Regions from separate parts of the Homo sapiens genome. Here all the other regions are reported to be linked to region 4. The links are microRNA targets in miRTarBase. Many come from high-throughput screens and were not tested one by one. Region 4 holds a microRNA gene; each other region holds the end of a gene's coding sequence.
Evidence for each region. The annotated mature microRNA hsa-miR-711 reads GGGACCCAGGGAGAGACGUAAG and lies in region 4 at 3,500-3,521, opposite strand. An mRNA with a match to its seed (bases 2 to 7 or 8) in the 3' UTR can be bound and repressed. Matches are read on the target gene's strand: a 7mer-m8 pairs with bases 2 to 8, a 7mer-A1 pairs with bases 2 to 7 and ends in A, and an 8mer does both.

Region 1: the mRNA of DNM2 is a reported target of hsa-miR-711. Seed matches in the 3' UTR shown: 7mer-A1 at 760-766 and 7mer-m8 at 1,105-1,111.
Region 2: the mRNA of QSOX1 is a reported target of hsa-miR-711. Seed matches in the 3' UTR shown: 7mer-A1 at 668-674 and 7mer-A1 at 3,237-3,243.
Region 3: miRTarBase lists SYT1 as a target of hsa-miR-711. Seed matches in the 3' UTR shown: 7mer-m8 at 629-635.
Region 5: miRTarBase lists NCAN as a target of hsa-miR-711. Seed matches in the 3' UTR shown: 7mer-m8 at 3,882-3,888 and 7mer-m8 at 2,593-2,599.

The regions. Positions count from the first base shown.
Region 1 is chr19:10,830,583-10,835,688 of GRCh38, forward strand. It overlaps DNM2 (dynamin 2), which reads left to right. Exons shown (of 21, transcript NM_001005361.3): 21 at 396-1,321. The coding sequence ends at 465. TMED1 (transmembrane p24 trafficking protein 1) reads right to left here. Exons shown (of 4, transcript NM_006858.4): 2 at 4,674-4,771; 3 at 4,352-4,535; 4 at 1,485-2,631. The coding sequence ends at 2,413. Among named protein-coding and RNA genes, the nearest start is that of TMED1, 3.1 kb to the right of the region's middle. RefSeq lists an enhancer at 4,128-4,765.
Region 2 is chr1:180,196,567-180,201,692 of GRCh38, forward strand. It overlaps QSOX1 (quiescin sulfhydryl oxidase 1), which reads left to right. Exons shown (of 12, transcript NM_002826.5): 12 at 1-5,126. The coding sequence ends at 471. Among named protein-coding and RNA genes, the nearest start is that of LHX4, 31 kb to the right of the region's middle.
Region 3 is chr12:79,448,570-79,453,695 of GRCh38, forward strand. It overlaps SYT1 (synaptotagmin 1), which reads left to right. Exons shown (of 11, transcript NM_005639.3): 11 at 349-3,439. The coding sequence ends at 555. Among named protein-coding and RNA genes, the nearest start is that of MIR1252, 32 kb to the left of the region's middle.
Region 4 is chr3:48,575,415-48,580,414 of GRCh38, forward strand. MIR711 (microRNA 711) reads right to left here and starts at 3,563; the gene lies at 3,488-3,563. It overlaps COL7A1 (collagen type VII alpha 1 chain), which reads right to left. Exons shown (of 119, transcript NM_000094.4): 56 at 4,886-4,930; 57 at 4,617-4,643; 58 at 4,371-4,400; 59 at 4,174-4,254; 60 at 4,066-4,101; 61 at 3,955-3,990; 62 at 3,783-3,863; 63 at 3,505-3,540; 64 at 3,039-3,101; 65 at 2,907-2,951; 66 at 1,578-1,613; 67 at 1,470-1,505; 68 at 1,262-1,357; 69 at 1,108-1,143; 5 more.
Region 5 is chr19:19,249,595-19,254,720 of GRCh38, reverse strand. NCAN (neurocan) reads right to left here. Exons shown (of 15, transcript NM_004386.3): 15 at 2,488-4,955. The coding sequence ends at 4,810. Among named protein-coding and RNA genes, the nearest start is that of HAPLN4, 11 kb to the left of the region's middle.

The DNA of each region.
Region 1 (5,106 bases), not on the chromosome of region 4:
CTCCGGGGCTCCCAGCTTGCCCTCTGCCTACTGGGGTGTGCCACCAGGCAGCTGGGGAACCCTCACACTGGGCACCTCCTCCCACTGTTTACCTTCTTCTCCTTCCTGCTCCTGCCTGCCTCAACCTACCGTGGGCCAGGCTTTATTCTCCCCACTTCTCCGGTGGGGAAGCTGAGGCCCAGGGAGGGCAGGGGGCTCACTGAGGGTCAAACAGCAGGCGAGTTGATGCCTAGGTTTGGCACTCCTGCCCGACACCCTGGTGGCTTGCGGAGGTCAGCCTGGGAACACCCTGGGGTGGTGTGTGGGTGGGGGCTGGGTCCTCAACCCAGGCCTGCCTCTTGCTCCCGGCCTCACTGCCGTCTCCCCCTCCCCACCTGTCTTTATTCTCTTTGCAGCAGAAGACCCCCTGCTGCGCCCAGCCGGCCCACCATTATCCGCCCAGCCGAGCCATCCCTGCTCGACTAGGCCTCGAGGGGGGCGTGCTCTCGGGGGGGCCTCACGCACCCGCGGCGCAGGAGCTTCAGTGGTCTGGGGCCCTCCGCCGCCCCTATGCTGGGACCAGGCTCCCAGTGGGCAGCCCTGGCCTCTTCCTTAACGCTGGCCCCGGTCCAGGGCCGGCCCCTGTGCCTGGCTGGACACCGCACTGCGCAAAGGGGCCCTGGAGCTCCAGGCAGGGGGCGCTGGGGTGTTGCACTTTGGGGGATGGAGTCTCAGGGTGGCAGAGGGGGGACCAGAACCCTTGACACCATCCTGAATGAGGGGTCCAGCCTGGGGGGGACTCTACCAAGGTCTTCTTGGGCTGGGAAAGCCCATGTAGGGCAGGCCTTCTATAAGTGCGGGCACCAAGGGCGCCTACATCCCCAGGCCTTGCTGGGGTGCAGGGGTATATCAACTTCCCATTAGCAGGAGCTCCCCAGCGGCAAGCCTGGCCCAGTGGGCTCGGTAGTGCCCAGCTGGCAGGCCTGAGGTGTACATAGTCCTTCCCGGCCATATTAACCACACAGCCTGAGCCTGGCCCAGCCTCGGCTGCCAGAGGTGCCTTTGCTAGGCCCGGAGCCGTTGGCCCGGGCCGGCCTTGCCCTATTCCTCTCCTCCTCCTCCTCCTGGGTCCCCCAGGGTGGCTGGGCTTGGGCTATGTGGGTGGTGGTGGCGGGGGGTCTTGGGGGCCTCTCAGCTCCCGCCCATGCCTCCCTGATGGGTGGGCCCAGGGCGGCCTCTCTCTGAGGAGACCTCACCCACTCCTCGCTCAGTTTGACCACTGTAAGTGCCTGCACTCTGTATTCTATTAATAAACTAAAATAAAGGGAAGACGCTGCTGGTGGCTGCTGTGTGGGCCTCTTGTGTTAGTGTTCAGGCTGGGGACATGGGTGCCACCTCCATCAGGCCTCCCATAAGGATGCCCAAGTCCCTGCACTCATAAGTGCCTCCCATCTCCCTGAGGGCTCTGCTTTCGGGGGTGTCACCTTTCAGAGGAAGCCACTCGATACAGGGGAGAGCTTTTACTTTCCTTAGCATGTGAGGAGTGGGAGCAGATATTCTCTGACCCCCTGCACACCCCCACGTGCACAGGCCTGGCTGCTGCCTGGTGAAGCGGGGACCCCAGCGCTCCACCCCCTTCCTACCCTCAGGCCCTGCTTCTCTCACCTCGTGGGGAAGCCCAAGCCTCGTGGCCCAACTGGGGCTCAGTTAAACTTTGCTTTCTGATTTTTCTCTTGTGCCAGGCGACCACCTCCATCGGCTCCCGCACGACCTTTCTTCTGAGCTTCGTGGGAGGCCCCTCCCACCTGTCTGGCTGCCCCCTCGGGGGCCGGTCTGTCCTGGCTGGTGTCCCTGAGCCCCAATCAGCAGGCTCTTGTGATTTTCTGACCATAATTTATTGACTCCAATGCCCAGGCCACACCACCCTTTGTTATAGGAGGCTTCTGCCTAGACTTTGGCCGGGCCATCCCTCATGCCTGTGTGGGGCCCCTGCAGGAGAGGGGCCGGGGCAGGTGGTCTTCCAGGCCCCCTTCCTGGCATTCTGTTACCAGACCTCAACCTGGCTTGGAGGGCCCAGGTTTCCTTGTTAGGCCCTGCCCCGCACCAGGCAACGCTAACACAGGATGGGAGGCTTAGGCTAAGGCACATTTACAGTAGAGGGGCCAGGAAATCCGAGGCTCACGTTCCAACGCTGCAGTGCCCACCATGTGAGATTTCCAGGACCGTCGGTGCAGCCACTGAGCCGTCCCTTCTACAAGCCAGAGGTGTTCCCTGCCCGCTGAGGACGGAAGGAGACTCATGGGGCCAGACCGCAGGCCCTGACTGCACACTCCCGTTTTGGCAGGAAACTAAAATTGGGGAGGGACCCCCAAGTCTCATATGCACACACCCTGCTGCCCCTCCTTTGTCCCGTTCTTCCTTCCATGGCAGGGGCTACGTGGGCACCGGGCGCTTGTCCTGGAAGAAGCGCTTGAGCGTGCAGACCTGCAGCACAGCCACCAGCAGCAGCACCGCCACGTTGACAGCTGACCAGAAGTTGACCCGCTCCAAGTTGCCCTCTTGCAGGTTGCGGTCACGTGCCTCGAAGGCCCGCAGTAGCGTGAGCATCTGGATGCTGCGCTCCAGCCGGGTCCGCATGGTCTCAATGGACTCCTACAGGGCAGCGGGAGGGGAAGGGTCAGGCCTCCCTCCACCCATCAGGGAGCAGAGACCAAAAAAACCGGGGGATACGGAGGGAGGCTGTATTAACCCTGGGAGGTACAGCTGCAAACACAGACTTGTTCAGGCTAAGTTCAAATCCTCACCCTGCCACTCACTGGCTGTGACCATGAGCAACTTAATTAACCTATCTGAGCCTGTTTCCTCTTCTATAAGCTTCCAAATTGCTGTGAACATTTAATGCCTAAATAAATGTACAAGGATGAGCATGGTGGCTCATGCCTATAATCCTAGCACTTTGGAAGGCTGAGGTGGGAGGATCGCTTGAGCCCAGGAGTTTGAGACCAGCCTGGGCTACATGGCAAAACCCCATCTCTACAAAAAATTAGCCAGGGGTGGTGATGTGCAACTGCAATCCCAGCTACTCAGGAGGCTGAAGCAAGATTACACCTGTAATCCAAACACAGGAGGATCACTTAAACCCAGGAGTTCAAGACCACCCTAGCCAACATGGTGAAACCTCGTCTCTACAGAAAACAAAAAATTAGGCATGGTGGTGCACACCCGTAGTCCCACTGAGGTGGCAGGATTGCTTGAGCCCAGGAGTTTGAGGCTGCAATGGGCTATGATCACACCACTGCACTCCAGCCTGAGTGACACAGCAAGACCTTGCCTCGCCGTAGCTCACACCTGTAATCCCAGAGCTTTGGGAAGCCAAGGCAGACAGATCCCCTGAGGTCAGGAGTTCGAGACCAGCCTGGCCAACATGGTGAAACCCTGTCTCTACTAAAAATACAAAAATTAGTCAGTCAGGCGTGGTGGCACAGCTATTCAGGAGGCTGAGGCAGGAGAATTGGCTGAACCTGGGAGGCAGAGGTTGCAGTGAGCTGAGATCGTGCCACTGCAATCCAGCCTGGGTGACCAAGAGAGATCTGTTAGAAAATAAATAAATAAGTAGTTAATTAAAATACTAATAAATGTACAGAACATATTTGCTTGTGGTTAAGAGCATAGTTGCTGAAACCAGCATGGGTTCAATACCAACTCTGCTAGTTGGTCTGTGTGGCCGTGAGTTGCTCAGCCATCTTGTATCTCACTTTCTCCACCTGTAAAATGGGGATGACTTGAGCACAGGGTCTGCTTCACAAGGTGGTTTGGAGATTTACGGTATGAGTTATTTATGATATGAGTTCCTTAAACCTTTACACCAGGGTTTATACCTAGAAATGAACTACTTTTTTTTTTTTTTTTTTTTTTGAGACGGAGTTTTGCTCTTATTGCCCAGGCTGGAGTGCAATGGTGCGATCTCGGCTCACTGCAACCTCTGCCTCCCAGGTTCAACTTCCACCTCCTGGGTTCAAGTCATTCTCTGGCCTCAGCCTCCTGAGTAGCTGGGATTACAGACGCCCGCCACCACACCCGGCTAATTTTTGTATTTTTAGTAGAGACGGGGTTTCACCATGTTGGCCAGGCTGGTCTCAAAACTCCTGACCTCAGGTGATCCACCCGCCTCAGCCTCCCAAAGTGCTGGGATTACAGGCGTGAGCCACCGTGCCCGGCCTGAAATGAACTACTTATTTTAAGAGCTGCTACTCTTACTATAATTCAGTTGGAGGGCACAACTACGGAGGGGAGGCTGGGTCAGCCCAAGGGGGGCACCCCAGGTGAATCCTAGAGATCTGGAAGGAGTGGCCCCAGCGCAGCCTGGACACACCTTGATGTCCTCCATTTTAACATCCAGCATCTCCTCGGGCTCCACAGCCTCTGCCCATCCTTCGACCTCCTCGTCATCCTGGAGGCTGTCAAAGATCAGTTCAAAGAACACCAGCTTCTCGGAGATGGTGCTGAAGGAGTTGTCAAAGCACAGCTTGTAGTCCCCGGCCTCCGTTGGCTCCACCCTGGGCAGACAGACACACAGACATGACCCAGGGTGGCCAGCCAGCCGACTCAGCGGGGCAGTCAGGGCGGTAACCTGAGGCCGCCTGGGAAGGGCAGGGCTGTAACTGAACCCAGGCAGGCATCAAGACTGAACTCACGTGTGTACCCCATCAGCCTTGCGGGACTCGCTGACCAACAGCACGCCCTGAGGGCTCTCCAGCGTGAAGTCCACGTCCAGTCCAGCACCTCCGATCACCTGGGGGGCAGGTAAGAGCGGGTGGAGGGCTAGCGGTAGGCCAAGGGCGCCTGCCGAAGAGGGCTACGGCTGAACCAACACTGATCAATACAGACCACCAAGGGCTTACCTGAACGGCGGCACACCCACACCCGCCCCAACCTGTCCCAGTGGCTGCGCCCCTTGCCTCCACCCTCATTGATATGACAGCTTGGGGTCCATACTTTCAGCTGACCACGCACCTACCAAAAGTACTTAATGGACGTTTACCTGACCACGCCCCTGGTTGGCTCCGCCTCCGAAAGAGGATAGGCCCAGCCTTTTTCCTTAGTCTAACCCCCGAGAAAGGCCTGTGT
Region 2 (5,126 bases), not on the chromosome of region 4:
ACCACCCCACATGTGCCGGCTGAGGGACCTGAGGCAAGTCGACCCCCGAAGCTGCACCCTGGCCTCAGAGCTGCACCAGGCCAGGAGCCTCCTGAGCACATGGCAGAGCTTCAGAGGAATGAGCAGGAGCAGCCGCTTGGGCAGTGGCACTTGAGCAAGCGAGACACAGGGGCTGCATTGCTGGCTGAGTCCAGGGCTGAGAAGAACCGCCTCTGGGGCCCTTTGGAGGTCAGGCGCGTGGGCCGCAGCTCCAAGCAGCTGGTCGACATCCCTGAGGGCCAGCTGGAGGCCCGAGCTGGACGGGGCCGAGGCCAGTGGCTGCAGGTGCTGGGAGGGGGCTTCTCTTACCTGGACATCAGCCTCTGTGTGGGGCTCTATTCCCTGTCCTTCATGGGCCTGCTGGCCATGTACACCTACTTCCAGGCCAAGATAAGGGCCCTGAAGGGCCATGCTGGCCACCCTGCAGCCTGAACCACCTGGGGAGGAGGCGGGAGAGGGAGCTGCCATCTCTAGGCACCTCAAGCCCCCTGACCCCATTCCCTCCCCTCCCACCCCTTGCTCCTTGTCTGGCCTAGAAGTGTGGGAAATTCAGGAAAACGAGTTGCTCCAGTGAAGCTTCTTGGGGTTGCTAGGACAGAGAGCTCCTTTGACACAAAAGACAGGAGCAGGGTCCAGGTTCCCCTGCTGTGCAGGGAGGGCAGCCCCGGGCAGTGGGCATAGGGCAGCTCAGTCCCTGGCCTCTTAGCACCACATTCCTGTTTTTCAGCTTATTTGAAGTCCTGCCTCATTCTCACTGGAGCCTCAGTCTCTCCTGCTTGGTCTTGGCCCTCAACTGGGGCAAGTGAAGCCAGAGGAGGGTCCCCCAGCTGGGTGGGCTGGAATGGAACTCCTCACTAGCTGCTGGGGCTCCGCCCACCCTGCTCCCTTCCGGACAATGAAGAAGCCTTTGCACCCTGGGAGGAAGGACCACCCCGGGCCCTCTATGCCTGGCCAGCCTCCAGCTCCTCAGACCTCCTGGGTGGGGTTTGGCTTCAGGGTGGGGTTTGGAAGCTTCTGGAAGTCGTGCTGGTCTCCCAGGTGAGGCAAGCCATGGTTGCTGGGCTGTAGGGTGAGTGGCTTGCTTGGTGGGACCTGACGAGTTGGTGGCATGGGAAGGATGTGGGTCTCTAGTGCCTTGCCCTGGCTTAGCTGCAGGAGAAGATGGCTGCTTTCACTTCCCCCCATTGAGCTCTGCTCCCTCTGAGCCTGGTCTTTTGTCCTTTTTTATTTTGGTCTCCAAGATGAATGCTCATCTTTGGAGGGTGCCAGGTAGAAGCTAGGGAGGGGAGTGTCTTCTCTCTCCAGGTTTCACCTTCCAGTGTGCAGAAGTTAGAAGGGTCTGGCGGGGGCAGTGCCTTACACATGCTTGATTCCCACGCTACCCCCTGCCTTGGGAGGTGTGTGGAATAAATTATTTTTGTTAAGGCAAGCATTGGTGTGTTCTTTAACTTGCTACTTGGAGACCTAGTGTCCAGTCTGGACAGAATGCACAGAGACCAGCCTCACCTGGAATGCAGCCAGACTCGATGTCCCTCAGCACACACAGCTCCTGGCCACAGACTGCCCATAGAACTGTCTGCACCCAAACCCCATGGCCTTTTCATGCACGGAGACAGGCCTCTGGATGTGCAGCCTTGCCACCCCCTGCCCCAATCCTCCCTGAGAGCTCCTGCCTCAGTGCCCTGGGCTGGTGAGGGAGAAGCCTGTCTGCACCTGCCTAATTCCAGCTCCTCCAGGAAGCAAGGGCTTGTTTGTCAGAGCTGCAGGGTTGGCCACTCGGTGGGGAGGAGTCAGCCAGGATTAGAGAGCCTGCCCCTAATCCGGCCTGCTGGGTTTTACAAGGATCAGAGCTGCTGATAATGAACCTCATTAAGGGGGAGCAGGAGCCTCAATCCGATTTGGTTTTCTCTTTGACATCTTCACTCTGCTCAGATGGCCTGGGTGCTATGTGGAGCAGGTGGGATGCCAAGGCCACTCCTGCTATGGGGCAGCTGGGGCTGGGGAGGGATGGCAGTCTCCCTGCATGTTTCCCTCGACCTCTTTAGCTGCAGCGCCTTGCTGGGCTCCTGGGTTGGACTCCCTCTCTGTGCCCCTGCTCCAGGCACCCATTGGCTCCATCCTCCTGGTTGTGCTCTGCACCCCCTGCTCCCTTGGGCTGGCCCTGGCTGGGGGCCTGAGAGACAGACAGGAACCCACAATCAGGAGGCAACCCTGGCCTGCAAGAGGAAGACAGAGGCTCCCAGGGCCGGTGCCCTGTGTGCCCACTGCACCAAGGCCGCTGAATAAGCCTGCCCTTCACCCCCTAAGGGCTCCTTGCCCAATGCCAAGTGCTGGGGATTTCTGTCAGCAAGCCCTGTGGCTCCAGTGACGGTATTTCTAAAGCCAAACTTAGTTACCTAGAATTAGCGCCATGTTGGAAACACTGTCGCAGCAGCCCGGGCTGCACAGTGTGTAGCCCAGCCTCCAGGTCCACGGAGTGGTGTGGACCTCCCACCTCACAGCTGCCTCTGGCAGCCAAGCCTCTTTTCGCCCGGCCCCAGCCCCTCTGGTTGATAAACGGGTGGGCCTCCTCAGCAGCGTGGCTGCCTTTCACCTTGATTTCCCCAGGGCTCTCGGCAACATCGATAAACCAGCCTCGCCCACCAGCTGGGCCCTCCCCCACCCAGTCTGCCAGGCTGGGAGCTGGAGCTTGCTGAGTCTTGAATGCCCTTCTAGATGGCTTCTCTAGAGGCTCTCCTGGCAAGAGAGGGTCCCAAGGGGAGCCCTGCAAAGCAAAGGCTCCTTGTCTGGGGCGGGATAGAGAATCTCGCCTCTGTCTGGTGTGTTACCTACTGGGGGCACAGGAACAATTTCCTCAAGGAGACAGTGGCATGGAGCTTTGAAAGACGAGTAGGTGTTAGCAAGGAAATAAGGAGGAACGGGGGTTACGGGCAGAGGAGAAAGCACATGCCAAGTCAGCAAAGAAAAGTAGAATTCGAAAACTTTTTAAAAATATTACTAAGGATTTTCACAATGCTGCACTGGGCTAGAAACTGAAGCTAAAACAGATACGTGGTCCCTGCTGCTATGGGGCTTCCGTTCTAGAGGCAAGGACAGGTTGTGATGAGGGTTCTGAAGGATAGAGACCAAGCAGGGAGGGTGTTGAGGAGGCTTCTGCGAGACCTGAAGGATGGGAAGCCAGGAAGTGGGAGGGGTGGGGGTCCAGGCTGGAGGGGCCCAATGTAGGTGTAGAGGGACTACAGCCCTGAGGGGCTGCTCCATGCGGCATTCTTGGAGGTCCAAGAGGGGCAGCGCCACCTTGGGCCAGGCTCCTCTCCAGCAGCCTTGGTATGGGGTGGGGGTGGGAAGACCCCTGATGCAGCCTGTCCTCTGGGTGTGGGGGTGGAGGAGAGGGCTCCAGGGGACCCAGCCAGCCTTGACCCTGGAGGAAAGTCAGGTGGGCTCAGAGAGAGCCCTCAAATCTGGGCCCTGGGTCAGGGTGGGGTCAAGTCCAGCCTTGAAGAGAATGGACTCTGGAATCTGACGTCTGGGTTTGAATCCAGCTTCCAACACTCACTGGCTGTGTGACTTTGGGCAAGATAACTTATCCCCTTGTCCCCATGTGTCATTGGAGATAAACTACCCACCTACCAGATTGTTGTACCATGCTGGGCAAACACTAAGTGCTTAATAATGGTAGCCCACTGCTCATGTCGTGTCGTCTCCTGTCTTGATACCTGAAAACTCAAGGGGCCCTGTTGTGCTTGGAGGGGGGTGCCGTTCCCACAGGATATTCTGTGAAGGGTGTCCCTGGAGCTGGGCCTCCAGGTGGCAAGCCCCAAGCCACCCCGGCAGGTGCCACTGGCCAGAGTTGAACTGAGGTGTTGAGTGGAAAGTGCCTCCCCACCCCCATCTGCCACAGTAGTATGGATTTCCTTCATGAGATGGGGCTCCTAAAATGCCTGAAATGTGTATGCTGTTGGAGAATTGATGTGTATGATTTATTGAACTTTGCACTCATTTAAATCTCATTTAATCCTCCAACAACGCAAGATGAAGAAGCTGAGGCTTAAAGAGATTAAGAAACATCCTATCCCCTTTACTCCCACCAAAATAAATACATTTGCCCTATTCTCCCAAATGGTGAGAGGTAGATCCAGGACTTGACCCCAGATCCCACCCACTCAACCCTGGAGCTGCAGTCTCTACCCCTTCTAACACATGTGATTCTGTTTCATGTCCTGTTCCATCGGTAGAGTTACACACTTTCCTGAGACTTTATATGGTGGTGCTGCTGGGTGCCAGCCCTTCTTCCCTCCAACAGTGGCAGTAACCACTGTTGTGTGTTGGTGTCAAGGAGTGGGGACACCCTGAAGGAATCCGCCTTTTCTAGAGCTCTCGCTCCATTCCCTACATCGAGGCTGAAGTGCCCTGTCTCGGGTCCTTGTTTTTAGGCCTCGTTTGAAGGAGGGGAAGAAACCAGGTTCGTTGGGCGTGACCTTGGCTCAGCTCGTCTGTGAAATTGGGGCCGCAGACTTAGTTTGCGGGTCCCTGCTAAATTCCTCTCCCTCTTCCTGGGATTCCCATCCATGTATTGCCAGCTACATGTAGAGTGGAGAGGAGAGGTTTTTCCTGCAGGGCCTTCCAGAGAAAGGATTCTTGGCCAGAGGAAATCACAGCCTATAAGATCAATATCCTGATAGAATCCCGGGCCAGGTGTGAGAGGGGAGAGCTCACTCACACCAGCCTGACAGTCTTGGGGCAGAGCGCCCCATAGGCCTCTGCAGCCCCATCACTGCCTCATTCTCCCTCAGGTGCCAAGGAAGCTCCAGGGTGGGCCCAGTATCCTTCCACAGCATCCCTCCTCTTCCCCTTCAACACCCCTTTCACCCCTCCCTCCACCACCTCTGAAAGGTGCTCCTTGGGCAGGGCGATAGGATTCCCACCCCTAGCTTTAAGAACTAAACCAAACTTCAAGAGGAGCAATTTAATCTTCATACCTGACTCCTTGTCCCTCCTCAGGCATGCTGTTGTGCAGGACAGAGCCCTGGCTTCTCCTGGATGTCACACCTGGCCTGTCTCTGACCCTTGCTTTCCCTTTCTCTGCT
Region 3 (5,126 bases), not on the chromosome of region 4:
GCATGGAGGTTCACAGCATAGGCTCTGAAAACCAAACAACTCATTCCTTAAACAACCTCAGACAGGTTATATAACTTCTCAGAGCTTCAAGCATCCTTACCTGTATAATGGCAATATTAATAGGATCTATTATGAGAAGTAACTGAGTTCATTCATGTAAAAGACTTAGTGCAAAGTATATAATAAAAATTAACGTTTGAGTATTAAGATTCAAGTCATTTTCATCCTCATCCTAGTGCTTGGAGATTGATTCTTCTATTTCCAATTCTTTAGCGCTCAAGGACGCTTTATAGTCGGGCCTTATCTCTAGAGCTAGATGATTCATATTCATTTCATGGCTTCTTTCAGAAAGTGCAGGTGGTGGTAACTGTTTTGGACTATGACAAGATTGGCAAGAACGATGCCATCGGCAAAGTCTTTGTGGGCTACAACAGCACCGGCGCGGAGCTGCGACACTGGTCAGACATGCTGGCCAACCCCAGGCGACCTATTGCCCAGTGGCACACCCTGCAGGTAGAGGAGGAAGTTGATGCCATGCTGGCCGTCAAGAAGTAAAGGAAAGAAGAAGCCTTTCTGCATTTGCCCATATAGTGCTCTTTAGCCAGTATCTGTAAATACCTCAGTAATATGGGTCCTTTCATTTTTCCAGCCATGCATTCCTAACACAATTCAGTGGTACTTGGAATCCTGTTTTAATTTGCACAAATTTAAATGTAGAGAGCCCCTAAGTCCTTCATCATACCACTGCCCTCCAAATCTACTCTTCTTTTAAGCAATATGATGTGTAGATAGAGCATGAATGAAATTATTTATTGTATCACACTGTTGTATATACCAGTATGCTAAAGATTTATTTCTAGTTTGTGTATTTGTATGTTGTAAGCGTTTCCTAATCTGTGTATATCTAGATGTTTTTAATAAGATGTTCTATTTTAAACTATGTAAATTGACTGAGATATAGGAGAGCTGATAATATATTATACGGTAAATATAGTATCGTCTGCATTCCAGCAAAAATATCAACTCGTAAGGCACTAGTACAGTTAAACTGACATCTTAAAGGACAACTTAAACCTGAGCTTTCTATTGAATCATTTGAGTACCAAGATAAACTTACACCACATACTTGGTGGGTGAATCCAATTTTGTAGAATTCCTACACAGGCAAAATAGCATGATCTGAGCAGCAGCATCCAGGCTGACCTCAAGGAAGCATAGCCACAAAACAGAATAGCACCTGTCTGTACATATTTACAAAGCTAAAATAATGGCTTCACTCTTATATTTGAGGAAGCAACTGAACAGGAGTCAATGATTTCATATTACTGCATATAGAATAACAACAAGGTGTTCCGTGTGTGTGTGTGTGTGTGTGTGTGTGTGTGTGTGCACATTTGTTTGGGGATGGGGGAGAAGAAGCTAAGGGGAGAAGTCAACATTTATGAAATATTGCCTGACTATTTAAAAAGAAAAAAGTAGCTCTCCATTATCACCTTTATACAAAATGTACATCCTGTGAATTCTGTTCCAGATTTCACACCTACAATAATTCCAAAAGGTTTGCACATTAGAGTTTGTAACAAAATATTTTATTATATAAAACCAGGTTAGAAGGAATGCAGGATATTTTTAACACAACAATCTGTGCTTATTACACAAAATTACTTTGTGGTAAACAGACAGTATTGTAATCCCATCAAAAGATGAAAGAAAAACAAAAACAAAAACCAACAACAATTAGCCATAGTTCTGAATGCACTTCAATTAAGCCAAAACAGACAGCTAGTGATCTTTTTATATGCTCTTTTTACTTAAGTTTTAATTTGTCCTTTAAAAAAAGGTGAAACAAACCAAGAACAAGTTCTAGAAAACTGAAGCAACCTCTTATGTATACTAGATGCTTGATTTAGGAGGAGTTTTTAAACGTTTTCAATGTTATTATGTAGTAAATGACACTATTATGAAGCTACTAGTCATTCCATAAGAGTCTTAAAGGACTGCTCTGTGTAACACTGTGACTGCCGTGTGTGCTTAGACCCGTAGTTTCCTCAGTGGATAGCACTCAATTTATTCCGTAGTGATATTGTAACAATACTGCCATTCCCTTCTACTGCACTGCCCAAGGTGTGTGTAGCACAAACAGTTCTCATTACAAAGGACCAATTCAGAACTGAAAAGCTATGCATAGGACAAGGAAGATACATAGAATGGGGTGGAACACAGCATTTTGTCAAGCACTGTGCAATATTCCATATTTTTCCCCACTATGGTAGACAACCATTTCGTGGAAGGGCAGCCTATTATCCCACACTGCATCTAGCCTTTTGTCCCATTCACTTCTGTGATCCATTTTAATTTCCAGGCCACAAGACAGTAGTGATGCTCTGAAATGAAAGTTTGTCTTCACAAATATCAAAACAAAATGGAGGAAAACTAAGCATTGGCCTCATGTTCAGTCTTCAGGATATCACACCACGTCTTTTCAAAAACTAAAGAGAATTCAAAAAGGGCTGATGGTAGGCTTTGAACATGGGGTTGGCTGTTTCCCAGTAAAACTGGAATTCCTGTCGTTACTGTTTCCTTATCAAAGAAGGGGCAAGCTCTTTTGCCTTTTAGGCCAGACATAGCAAACGCTTTATAATTGGCATAGACATAAAGGATAAAAGGAAAATAACCGTCTGCCGATGGTCCGTACTTCTTAAAAAACATAGGTAATAGAAAATATACACAAGTCAGAATGTGAAATTAAATAATGGTTTGAACAGAAAATTCAAACAAGACTCTTTCCAATTTAAAGGGCCAAACCCTACCAAAGAGAGGGAGTTGACTGGCTTTTAAAAAGTATTTAAATACCACAAATGACATTTAATTTCACTGTATTCAGCTTTAAGTTGTTCACAATGAAACCACACTTTCAAACAAGCAGGTTCAAGCTGCTGAATAGACATTATTTCTTGCATTAAAATACCACTAATGCATTCTCTTGCAACACTGCCAGACATGGGATTGTCACCATAGAATTAGTTGGTACTATGCCATCTTTCACTCTTTCACAAGTCAGTGATGGAACCTGCTTTATGACCAAGATTCATCCTCAAATAAGCCACATGTACCCTTCTGACAAAGCTGTGTAAAGTATTAGAATCTGATGCTCTAGAAAGATCCTAGTTGCCTTTGTGTATATTTACTGCCTGCTTGAGTGTTTCTATGTGTGGGTTTTCCCTGTATCTTGTAGAAATGTTGGGGTGTTTTCCTCTGCCATATGGCTCGTGGCCTGCGAGCCAACTATTTCAGCTGTATTTTACCTTCATTTTTGATGAGGTGATTTAAATTTTGTTTCACTTTGTGTAGTGAATTCCACAGTAGTTTTCTGATTGTTGTTAAAAATGACTTAACATATTACACAGATATTCAATAAAAATGTTTTATTTCCTGTTGATGTTGCTGCGTTCCCACTCTTTTCCTTGCCTGACTCTGGTGGTAAGCCAATGGCCTATTGACTTTGGGGGACTCCTGGAAGCAGCAGCAGCTAAACAAAACTGCACTGAATGCCAGCATCTGAGTCACATCTGAGTACAGAATAGCTAGAGGGAAAACAACACCCGGGAGCATTTGGCCATGACCGCGTGGTGTTCCTGGGCAGTGTCATTCTCAACATGTGTTTCTCTATTCCTGTGTGTCATCAGTTCATCTGGCGTACTCTGAGGCTTTTCACTTTGCCCAGCATGTGTCCTTCAGGGTTTTCACTCCAGAACCCAAGTCACACAGCTTCTCCAGAATGGGACGGAAAACAAAACTATTTAAACCCCAGTTTCAGAGGACAGTATGACACATTAAATTCTATGCCTACTACGATCGCTATGGGAAACAAGTAAATACTTTTCCTCCACTAAATTTAACATTTATCAAGTGCCTACTGTACTGGACGCTGAAGCCCACAGTTTCAGGCTGATGTAAATACGCTATCCCAATGCACTGTGATGTGGGCTTAAAAGTAAGGGTGTTGGGTCCCTGAGGACTTTTTTTTTTTTTTTTTTTTTTTTTTTTTTTTTTGCGGAGTCTCGCTCTGTTGCCAGGCTGGAGTGCAGTGGTGCGATCTCGGCTCACGGCAACCTCCACTTCCCGGCTTCAAGCGATTCTCCTGCTTCAGCCTCCCGAGTAGCTGGGATTACAGAAGCCCGCCACCACGCCTAGCTAATTTTTGTATTTTTAGTAGTGACAGGGTTTCACCATGTTGGCCAGGATGGTCTCCATCTCCTGACCTCGTGATCCACCCATCTCGGCCTCCCAAAGTGCTGGGATTACAGGCGTGAACCACTGTGCCCGGCCTATCCCTGAGGACTTTTACTGGATCAATCGTAGTAGATACCATGGTGTATCACCATGATCCCCCTTCAGCAGAGAGGTACTCTTGCTGCAGCTGCTGGAAGTGGTGCTTGCTGACAGCTGACAGCTGTGTTCCTCTGCGCTCTACAGAAGGAAGCTGTCTCACCTAAGTTTATGCACCCTCCCTGGGAGCAGCCCACAATCGGCTGCTGATTTCGGAATCTCTGAAGCGCCATCTCAGTTTCATAGCCCCAGGAGTTAGTGGAGACTGCTTTCGCAACTGCACTGCAGTTCAACTTCTTTCTCTGCCCTGTTGGTTTTCTTCAGTGTTTTGCAGGTGTTGCTCCTAAGAGCACTTCCTCCAATAAAACCCCTTCATGTACAGTTTCATCTCAGAATCTGTATCCTGGGGATCCCATCCCACAGCACATTCTTTGGGGAGGAGATATCAAGAAGAGTTTTCTAGAGAGGATAACACAGCGAAGTACTAAAGGAACTGGCAGGAGTCATCCAAGTAAGGGAGTGAGCAAGACTTCTGCAAAATTTATCTCACTTGACAAGTGTATTCATGATGGAGTCTTTGAGGTTGGCTGTATTATACTTCCTTCACTCAGCTCTATCAGTCATGGCCAAATAAAAATAGGAACTAAACCCAAACTGCTAAGACAACCAGTGGAAAGATCACTTAATAACTATACACTGTGAGGAAGCTGCTGGCGAAGGGTTCAAAATCTAAGTTTATAAAATGAAACTTAAGGCACAACTGGTTTAGAAATTTAAAAAAAAAATCAGCATTAAAC
Region 4 (5,000 bases):
TCCCCGGCAAGGCCGGAAGGCCCGGGGGGGCCCCTCTCCCCAAGGGCCAGACCAGGTGGCCCCTGAGGGCCAGGGTCTCCACGGTCGCCCTTCAGCCCGCGTTCTCCAGGAAAGCCGATGGGGCCCTGCAGGAGTGGAAGAGAGAATGCTGGTGGCTGTACAGCTACACCCCACTCCACGGGGCACAACCCACTGAGCCACTTCTGCTCACCTCCTTGCCTGGGGGGCCCTGTTCGCCTGAGTCCCCCTTGGGGCCTCGACGCCGTTCGGGCACAGGCAGGAAGCTACCAGAGCTCTCATCCCAGGTCTCCACGATCTCCCGCAGGGCAGATGCCTGAGGGACAGCAAGAGGTCAGAGGAGCGGGGTGCGTCGCCGCAGCCCCTATGCCTGTGGGCACCACTAGCCCCAAGGGCCCCCACTTGTCCCTACCCCCAGCCCCTAAACAACCCACCTTGATGCCAGCAGTTTCCAGCAACCGATCCACATTCTGGGGACAAAGTCTGGGTGAAGGGCTGCCCATGACAGAGAAGCTCCTGCCTTCTGCCCCGCACGGCCTCAGGAAAGCACCTTCACACCCTTTTCCCTAGGCCTCTTGCCCAGAGCACCCTTTAGCACTTGGTTGAGGCATGGCTGGAGACTCCTGGGAGCCCCTTTCTGGTGTGTCCCCACTGCCCAAGTTCCCTTGAGTGTGGGCTACAAGAACCCCAATGGGGCAGGGCACTGAACACACAGCACAGAACCTATGGAGCCTCATGGCAAGGGGAAGGGGATGGCAAGGTGGCCCCAATGGGCATGCAAAACAGAGTCAAGGGGACATCCCAAGCCTGGCTCACCGGCACACTTCCAGGCTCTCCTCGCAGGCCACGCTCTCCAGGGAGGCCCTGGAGAGATGAAGACAAACTGCTAGGAACCAGCCTATGGGTGTGCATGTGCACATGTGGGTGCTGTGGCTACCTGGGCATGTGGAAAAGGTGGGGGCCTCACCTGCTCCCCTTTGGATCCAGTCTCCCCACGGTCACCCTGAAAACAAGAATGACCAGGTGGGGAAATGGCCCCCAGCCTGGTCAGCCCCCTCACCACGCCCCCTACCCAACATCCGCACTCACCTTGGGGCCCGTGCCTCCTGGGACACCAGGAAAACCCTGAGATACGGCAGAACACAAAGGGGTCACAAAGGCCCATGGCTTCCCAGGAGGGTTGCCCATTGAAACATCATGGCTTCTAATGCTCTGAAGTCCCAGAATGACCCAGGACACTCACCTGGCCAGGAGGGCCCACTGGCCCTGGGAGGCCTGGAGGCCCCTGGGGTCCAAGGATACCAGGAGCTCCACGCTCACCCTTGGGGCCATCACGACCCTGTGAAGGATGCAGCCAGCATCAGCACCCTGAGACCTCAGAAAAGAGTGGAGTCATATTCCCCCAGGGTCAGGGTCAGGGGTCAGAGGTTGCAGAAAACTCCAATACTCACTTCTCTCCCAGAGGCGCCTGAATCTCCTTTCTCTCCCTAAGGAAGACAAGGATGCTTCAGGCATGGCTCCAAGCAGAGACCAGAGAGACCCCAGGTGGGGGACTTTACCTTCCTCCCGTCTTCTCCAGGGTCCCCAGGTTCTCCCTGTGGGCAGAGGACTCACATCAGCCCAAACATTCACTGGTGTCTGGCTGCAAGACACTACCTTGCTAGATTTCAGATGACTGTGACTGTATTTCTGTGCCTGTAGCTCCATGGTTGTGTGTGTCTTGGAGCATGGCCTGTGGCCGTCTGAGTGAGCTGCTACATGTCTAAGGGTGTGCCTGCATAGGCCTGCTCACCCCAACAGGCAACTGCACACATGTCCTTTGACTCTGGCTCTCTAGAGGTAGCTCCACATTTATGCATCTCTGGGTTGGTGATCGTCCACATGTCCTGGGTGTGTGCATATCCATGTGTGTCTTAGTACATGTACCCATGGGTCTGTGTGTCCTGGTCTGTTTGCACATCTTGGCCCATGTCTGCATATGGGCATGGGCTTATACATGTCTCCAAAGAGCATGGGCTTATACATGCCTTGAGAGCCATGTGTCTTGGCATCTGTCTGCAACTCTTGTGTGTAGCTCAATGTGTATGACCATAAGCGTGTGGGTGACCATATAAAGTCATGGGCCAGCATGTCCTAGCACATGTCACAGGTCAGAGCCATCCATGTGTGTCTCACCATGTCTCAACACAGGTCCACATGCGGTCTTGGGTCCATGTCTTAGCACATGAGTCTGGGTGGAAGTGTCTGGGTATCAACATGTCTCTAAGTGCCCCAAATGTGGCTACACACCAGTGTGTTTGTGCCTGTCGACCTGTCTGTGGCTCTTCACCTGTGCCTATGGCTGTGGGTTATCTGGGCATGTGTCAGCCCATCCTGGCATAAATTGGCCCATTCACCTAACTCCCTATGTGTCTGTGAGGCTGCCTGTGTGTGCATATAGAACTATGTTTCCAGGCCTGGCGCAATGGCTCACGCCTGTAATCCCAGCACTTTAGGAGGCCGAGGCGGGCGGATCACCTGAGGTCAGTTTGTGATCAGCCTGACTAACATGGAGAAACCCCATCTCTACTAAAAATACAAAATTAGCCAGGCATGGTGGCGCATGCCTGTAATCCCAGTTACTCGGGAGGTTGAGGCAGGAGAATCACTTGAACCCGAGAGTCGAAGGTTGCAGTGAGCTGAGATTGTGCCACTGCACTCCAACCTGGGCAACAAGAGCGAAACTCCATCTCAAAAAAAAAAAAACTATGTTTCTGGATGCATCTGTATGTCTGGGCCAGGATGCATGTGTCTACACGTGTGCCTCATGTGTTGCTACAGATCTTGGCTGTGTAGGTGTGCTGGCGTTTCTTGGCAGGTTTCGCCGCAGCTGCCCTGGACACACTCACGTTTTTTCCATTCAGGCCAGGTTTGCCATCCTCGCCTGGCTTTCCCTGTGGGAACAGATCACTGGTTGGATGTCGGGGATCGGGTGAGGGTAGTAAGGGGGAAAAGGGGGTAACATGAAAGTCTGGTCTCACCGGTAATCCAGGGGGACCAGAGGGGCCAGGGAGGCCCTGTTCTCCACGGAGGCCTGGAAGCCCCTGGAAAAAGTCTTTGTTAAGATTTATAGGGCCTCTGAGATATCCCTTGGGGCACACCCCATGGACTAAGAGGACCCCAAAAAGATCTCCCTCCAGGGTAGAGACCCCCAGGACTGAGAGGTCCCATTGAGATCCCTCAGGCACAGACCCCATGGATGGGGGCCCCTGCTGAGACTCCCAAGGGAAGAACCCCCAGGACTTGGAGGGCCTATGAAGACCCCCAAGGCAAAGAAGGTCAGAAAGGGGGATTCTACTAAAACCTGTGTGCCAGGGACTGAGACCCTCCCAAAGGCAAGGCTGAACCGACCCCCCACCAACTCTCTCGGATGCTGTGACTATGATGATCTGGTTGGAGCTTACGCAGCCCCGAGCCCCCTCTGTCCCAGCATCTCCCCTCACTTACGTCTCTCCCTGGGTCCCCAGCTTTGCCTGCAGCACCCTGAGGAGAGACTCAAAGTCAGTTCATCATGGTCATGGGGTCAGGGGCTCTAGTCCCTGTGAGCCTAAGGCCTGCATGGCAAGAACATGCCCCACCCAGGCAGGGCTCTGGGAGAAGACACAGACAACAGGTCTCGCCCCAGAGCTCGTCAAGGCCAAGACCAACCAATGAGGCTGGGGTCTAGGGTCCTCATGTGAAGGGGTAGGGGAAGGGGACAACCAGGCAGGACTACCAAGACTCACATTCGGCCCAGAGGGCCCAGCGGCTCCTGGTTTCCCATCCAGTCCGCTCCGGCCATCCAGCCCAGGGGGACCCCGGTCACCCTGTGGAAAATAGAGTGGTAAGAGGCCACCAAGGCTGAGGTGGATCTGATAACCCAGGCTCATGTCCTGAGAAACCCCCACACCCTCTCACCTTTTCTCCTGCTGGGCCTCGGACACCTGGGTCCCCCTGGAGGGAACAGGGTCAGATAAGAGGTGAGGGTAAGATGGGGACTTGGCAGACGGGGCAAAGTGCATCACTCACCTGTGGGCCTGGGGGTCCCCGAAACCCTTCAATGCCCTGAGGATAGGGGAGGAAGAAATCAGAGCAGGCCCTCCCATGCCTGCACCCCCGAGGACCAATCACACTCACCCTTTCCCCAGGGGCTCCAGGGAGGCCAGGATCACCCTTGGGCCCTCGAGGACCCTCTTGTCCGCGGTCCCCAGGCTCTCCCTGTGGCAGAGATAAGCTTGCTGAGGAACAGCCTTGAAGCCAAGCCATGCCCAAGGTAGAACCTGCTGGGAGGGGCACTGGGGTCTTTCTTACCCTCCACCCACAGACCCTAATACCTTCTCTCTGGCTCCAGGTCCTGTGTCTACCTGTGGGGGGAATGACCAGTGAGAAGAATGGCTCAACAAGGGGAAGAGGAGTTGGCGAGGGGATACAGGGTCTGTGAGGGGCTCCAGGGATCCGCGGAGGTTTCAGAGGGACAGTGGGGGAAGTGGGAGTTAGTGGAAGGAATGAGGGGACATGATGTGGAGCCAAAGGGGCAAGTGAGAACAATGACAGAGGACCAGACCCAGCGCAGCCCTTACCAGCCGTCCCGGGGGTCCTGGGGGACCCTGGGAAAGGAAATGATTATAGTCAATAGGAGCCCTCAGGTCCCAGGCCATGGCTCTGGTTTGCCCCAGGCTCAACTCTGCCCCCAAGTTCCCCGAAGCACCCCAATGCCAGCCCCCAGCAGGCATGGGTGGCCATCCATGCTTCCCACCTGGACCTCCAGACCCCTTGTGTGAAGGCACACTGGCAGCAGCGCCAGGGGACCCTCCATCCCTTCTGAGCCCAGGACACCAGCCCTACTCACCGGCTCCCCACGGTCACCCTTGGGTCCAGATGATCCAGGGCTGCCCTGCAGAAAGGCAGGGGTCAGGGCCACTCAAGGTAGGCAGCAGTTTGGGAGAGCTTTGGAAGCACCATGA
Region 5 (5,126 bases), not on the chromosome of region 4:
ATGGTTTGGATTGAATGCATCATAATTTTGTAGTCAGGTTCCTAATGGTGGACATTTATATTGTTCTCAATATGTTTCTGCTAGAAGTAAGTATCCACATCATCACTCACAAGTTCAAGTATAACTGGAGGATGATATCAGAAGTTGTTTGTTCAGGCCGGGCACGGCAGCTCACACCTGTAATACCAGCACTTTGGAAGGCTGAGGTGGGCGAATCACGAGGTCAGGAGATCGAGATCATCCTGGCTAACATGGTGAAACCCCGTCTCTACTAAAAATACAAAAAATTAGCTGGGCGTGGTGGCAGGCACCTGTAGTCCCAGCTACTCAGGAGGCTGAGGCAGGAGAATGGCCTAACCTGGGATGCGGAGCTTGCAGTGAGCTGAGATAGCGCCACTGCACTCCAGCCTGGGCGACAGAGCGAGACTCCGTCTCAAAAAAAAAAAAAAAAAAAGAAGCTGTTTGTTCAAAGGGTCAAAACTCCCCATTTACCATTTTTTTTTTTTTTTTTTTTTTTTGAGACAGAGTTTTGCTCCTATTGCCCAGGCTGGAGTGCAATGTCACGGTCTCGGCTCACCTCAACCTCTGCTTCCCGGGTTCGAGCGATTCTTCTGCCTAAGCCTCTAAAGTAGCTGGGATTACAGGCGCCTGCCACTGCGCCCAACTAATTTTTCTGTTTTTAGCAGAGATGGGGTTTTACCATGTTGGCCAGGTTGGTCTCGAACTCCTGACCTCAGGTGATCCACCTGCCTTGGCCTCCTACGGTGCTAGTATTACAGGCATGAGCCACTGTGCCCAGACTAAAACTCGCCGTTTTCATAGTGATTTCCACATTTTCTTAGAGATGGGGCCAATTTATACTCCACAGGTAATAGATATACTCACCTGGCTGGGCATGGTGGCTCACGGCTGTAATCCCAACAGTTTGGGAGGCCGAGGCGGGTGGATCACCTGAGGTCAGGAGTTCGAGACTAGCCTGGCCAACATGGCAAAACCCCATCTCTACCAAAAATACAAAAATTAGCCCAGCATGGTGGCAGGCACCTGTAATCCCAACTACTCGGGAGGTTGAGGCAGGAGAATCACTTGAACTGAGGAGGCGGAGGTTACAGTGAGGTGAGACTGCACCACTGCACTCCAGCCTGGGCAACAGAGCAAGACCCCTTCTCAAAAAAAAAAAAAAGTACTCACCTGTTCCACACATCCTCATTAGCCTCATGTCTTGTCACTTTTTATTTTTGTCAATCTGATAGGTGAAAAATGGTATCTCAATGTGGTTGTTGCTTGCGTTTCTATTTGTGAGGTTGAACATCTCCAACCACCACCACCAACTTTGACCTTAGGTGCAGGCGGTCGAGCAAATCGTAAATCATTCACAGTTCAAGCACATTATCATCTTTGATATATGCAAGGATCTTTTTTTTTTTTTTAGATGGAGATCACTCTATCACCCAGGCTGGAGTGCAATGGTGTGATCTTGGCTCACTGCAACCTCCACATCCTGGGTTCAAGCGATTCTCCTGTTTCAGCCTCCTGAGTAGCTGGGATTACAGGTGCGCATCACCGCACCTGGCTAATTTTTGTATGTTTAGTAGAGACAGGGTTTCACCATGTTAGCCAGGCTGGTCTTGAACTCCTGGCCTCATGTGATCTGCTCACCTTAGCCTCCCAAATTGCTGGGATTACAGGCGTGAACCACCATGCTGGCCATCTTTTGATACATTTGTTTATTCTCTTATATTTTTATGTCCTTCCTTGTGAATCTAGATGTTCTTGCAAAATGTGTATTATTTTATTGAGTCTATATTGTAGTTTTAGAGCTGCTATTTCCTTTTTTGTAAACTTTTTTTTATATCTTTTGCCTGCTTGGCTAATGGATTTGTCTTTTTCCTACTGATTCGAGTGAGCCCTTCTTTTTTTTTTTTTTTTTTTTTTTCTGAGACGGAGTCTCTCTCTGTTGCCAGGCTAGAGTGCAGTGGCACCATCTCAGCTCACTGCAACTTCTGCCTCCTGGGTTCAAGTGATTCTCCTGCCTCAGCTTCCTGAGTAGCTGGGGCTACAGGCGCATGCCACCATGCCCAGCTGATTTTTGTAGTTTTAATAGAGACAGGGTTTCACCATGTTGGCCAAGATGGTCTCGATCTCTTGACCCTGTGATCCGCCTGGCTCGGCCTCCCAAGGTGCTGGGATTACAGGCATGAGCCACTGCGCCCGCTCCCTTCTGCAAGAAGACTTTTGCTTTCACTCTTTCCTCTGAGTGGAATGCCTTTCCTTTCTTTCTCTCCTCATCTAGTTAATGCGACTTCTTCTTTAGATTCCATTCCCCTCCTCGGGGAAGCCTTCTGTGACTACCCACTAAAGACCAAACCTTCTCTGTTCACCACTATCTCCCCAGCACCCAGTACAGTACATGGATCACAATAGCTGCTCGGGTAAATACTTGCTGAATGAATGAATGAATGAAGGTATCAGGTGGTGACGGGCAGGTTGAACTGTTAAAAAATTTATTAAAATGTCCAAGAAGTACATTAATGTCCACAGTGTCAGATACCACAGACCCACAGAACACTGCAGCTCACAGCAAAACCAGCAGGACCCAAAGCCGTTCACACGCACACACACTCATATGCGTGCCACGCACATGGCACACGCAGACACACACGCACATCCAAAAGGGAAAGATCAAAAGACAAACCGCCCACTTTAGAAAAGACCAGAGCCCCCTCCCACCATGGAGCCGAGGTGGGGGCAGGGCAAACGGCTGAGGGGCTCAAGGGCAGGGAGCATAAACCAAGACCCCCCAAAAAACACTGCATCCCCAGCCCCCCGCAAACAAAGGAAAATTTTTGTGTGACATAGATGACCAAAGATGTGTTATTATTATTATTTTAAACTAAGAAGAGTTATCAAAGTAAGAAGACAAACCTGTATCCCTGGGTTTTCTGAATAATAACCATAATAAGATAGATGTCTACAGGGAGGAAGATTGAAGACAAGGATAAGGGTTCAGTTTACACTTCTTAACCATTTCCTAAATGTGTATGAGGGTGCAATTATATTTCAATCTCCTCTCCAGAGTCCAGAGCAGGATTTGGGTCAGAACCAAGATGGGAGTTGGCTCTGACTTCTGGATTTGGAGTAAGGATTTGGTGATGGAGAGAAAGTGTAAGCAGAGCCAGAGTAAGGATTTGGTCCAGAAAACAGGACCAAATCCTTATTCCAAATCCTTACTCCTGTCGTGGTTGTGACTTCAAGCCAGTACCTTTCCTTTATATCTGAGCCTCAGTTTCACTGTGTGTAAAATGGGAAAGTAACAGTTTCTAAGTCAATGGGCTATTGAGAAGATTCAAGGAGATTGTATGTAAGTCTTTAGCATGGTGTCTACTTCTTAGTTGTCAATGGTCATTATTACTTCCCAGAAGGGATTCAGGCTCAGTTAACACATTTCTTTCTTTACTGAACCCCTAGGTGGACCATTCATTTGCTTATTTTTCTTTCCTGAAGAGGGCCATTCTCCACGGTGCTTTTTTAACCCTGATCCACAGATTTTACCCGGACTGCTGAAAGTGAGTAACAGACATGGAGGAAAAGCTGTGGATCTTTCCTGCCAGAGATGAGGGAACTGGATCCTGGCCCCTGGTGTGGAGAGACCTTTTACAGGTTGCACATTTGGGGGAGGAAGGCAAGGTGAGTTCTTTCCCACTTAAAAAATTAAAATCTACAAGAGAAAAATGTGTGTGTGTGTGTGTTTGTGTGTTTCAGTTTTAACACTGAGCATCTCTCTACAATATGACCGCAGGTAGGTGTCACTACTTCAAGTTTTAAGTGTTTCTAGACCACCAGGCAATGGCCAGGGACAAGGGTGGGGTGGGGCAGGAGTGGGACCCAGGGCAGGGGCACTACCAATGTCTGCTTAAGGACTGGGTATGTGCACTGGGCTAGAAAACTTGGCAGCACCTCCTTGGTCCAGGAAGGAGGTTCTTTGTCTCCCTGAGAGATGGAGGGGGAAGAAATCTGGGCTCATCTAGCCCTAAATATCCTCTCGTCTATTTGTGTGAAAGAGATTCATCACACATGCAGAACCACCAAATCTCAGCGCTGGACTAGACCTGGAAGGGTTAGCAATACACTCTCCCTCCATCACCTACATATTGCTTTGATCATTCTCACTCCTAACTCTGAAGGCATGGAGGGAGGTTGTCCTAAAAACATCCCTAAAATGCAGTACGTGGGATCTCCACACTGTGTGTTTATCCACCAAGACCAAAGACGGAACTTGGGCTGAAGTCCAGGGTAAAGGGAGAGCTGTTGTCAAGTTCAAAAACAGTGTGCTTCTGTGTAGCCTTCTATTCCCAAAGCTAATGACCCTACGTCCAGGCTTCTTCCTGGATTTAGGAATTCAGCCAACATTGACTAAGTCTGAATTTCTGGTGTGAAAAGCAATTCCTTCATGTGAATGCAAACATACACTCATGCACCCTCATCAAGGCCTGCTTCAATCAGCCTGGCAAACAAGAGACCAGACCAATGAGCTTTGCTACTTGTGCTTCCCTCAGCTGGGACACACTCCCAGAGTTCAGCCAGACGAGAATGAACTTTTCAGACACCTGGCTCCACCTGCCAAGAGGATCTTGTGTATGTAAAAAAAGGGAAAAGAGGAGCTTTGTACAAAGGATTATGTGTGTGGGGGATGTGGTTTGGGGTTCAGGGACTTCTGGACTCTCTTGTTTCTCTCTGGGTTCTGTCTCCCCAGGCGAAGGCTCCAGAGGAGGCATGGGAAAGGTGTTGTGCTTTCTTTTTTCTGGTTCTTCAGCAGAAATTCCCTTCGTCCTTCTCCCAGTCCTCCGTTGGGTGTTTCTTGTGTTTTCTGCGCTCCTTGCGGGATTTGTGGTGGTGATGCTGGTGGTGGTGTTGGTGGTGGTGGTGGTGTCGCCGCATCCGATGTGAACGTCTGGCTGCAGGGAAGTGAGGGAGGACAGGGAAGGGACAAAAGGTGGTGAGAGGCAGGTGGCCTGATGCAGCGGGTGTCCTTGGGAGAGAAAGTAGAGGAAAGAGGCCAGACGCGAGGGCTCATCCCTGTCATCCCAGCACTTTGGGAGGCCAAAGTGGGAGGATCTCTTGAAGCC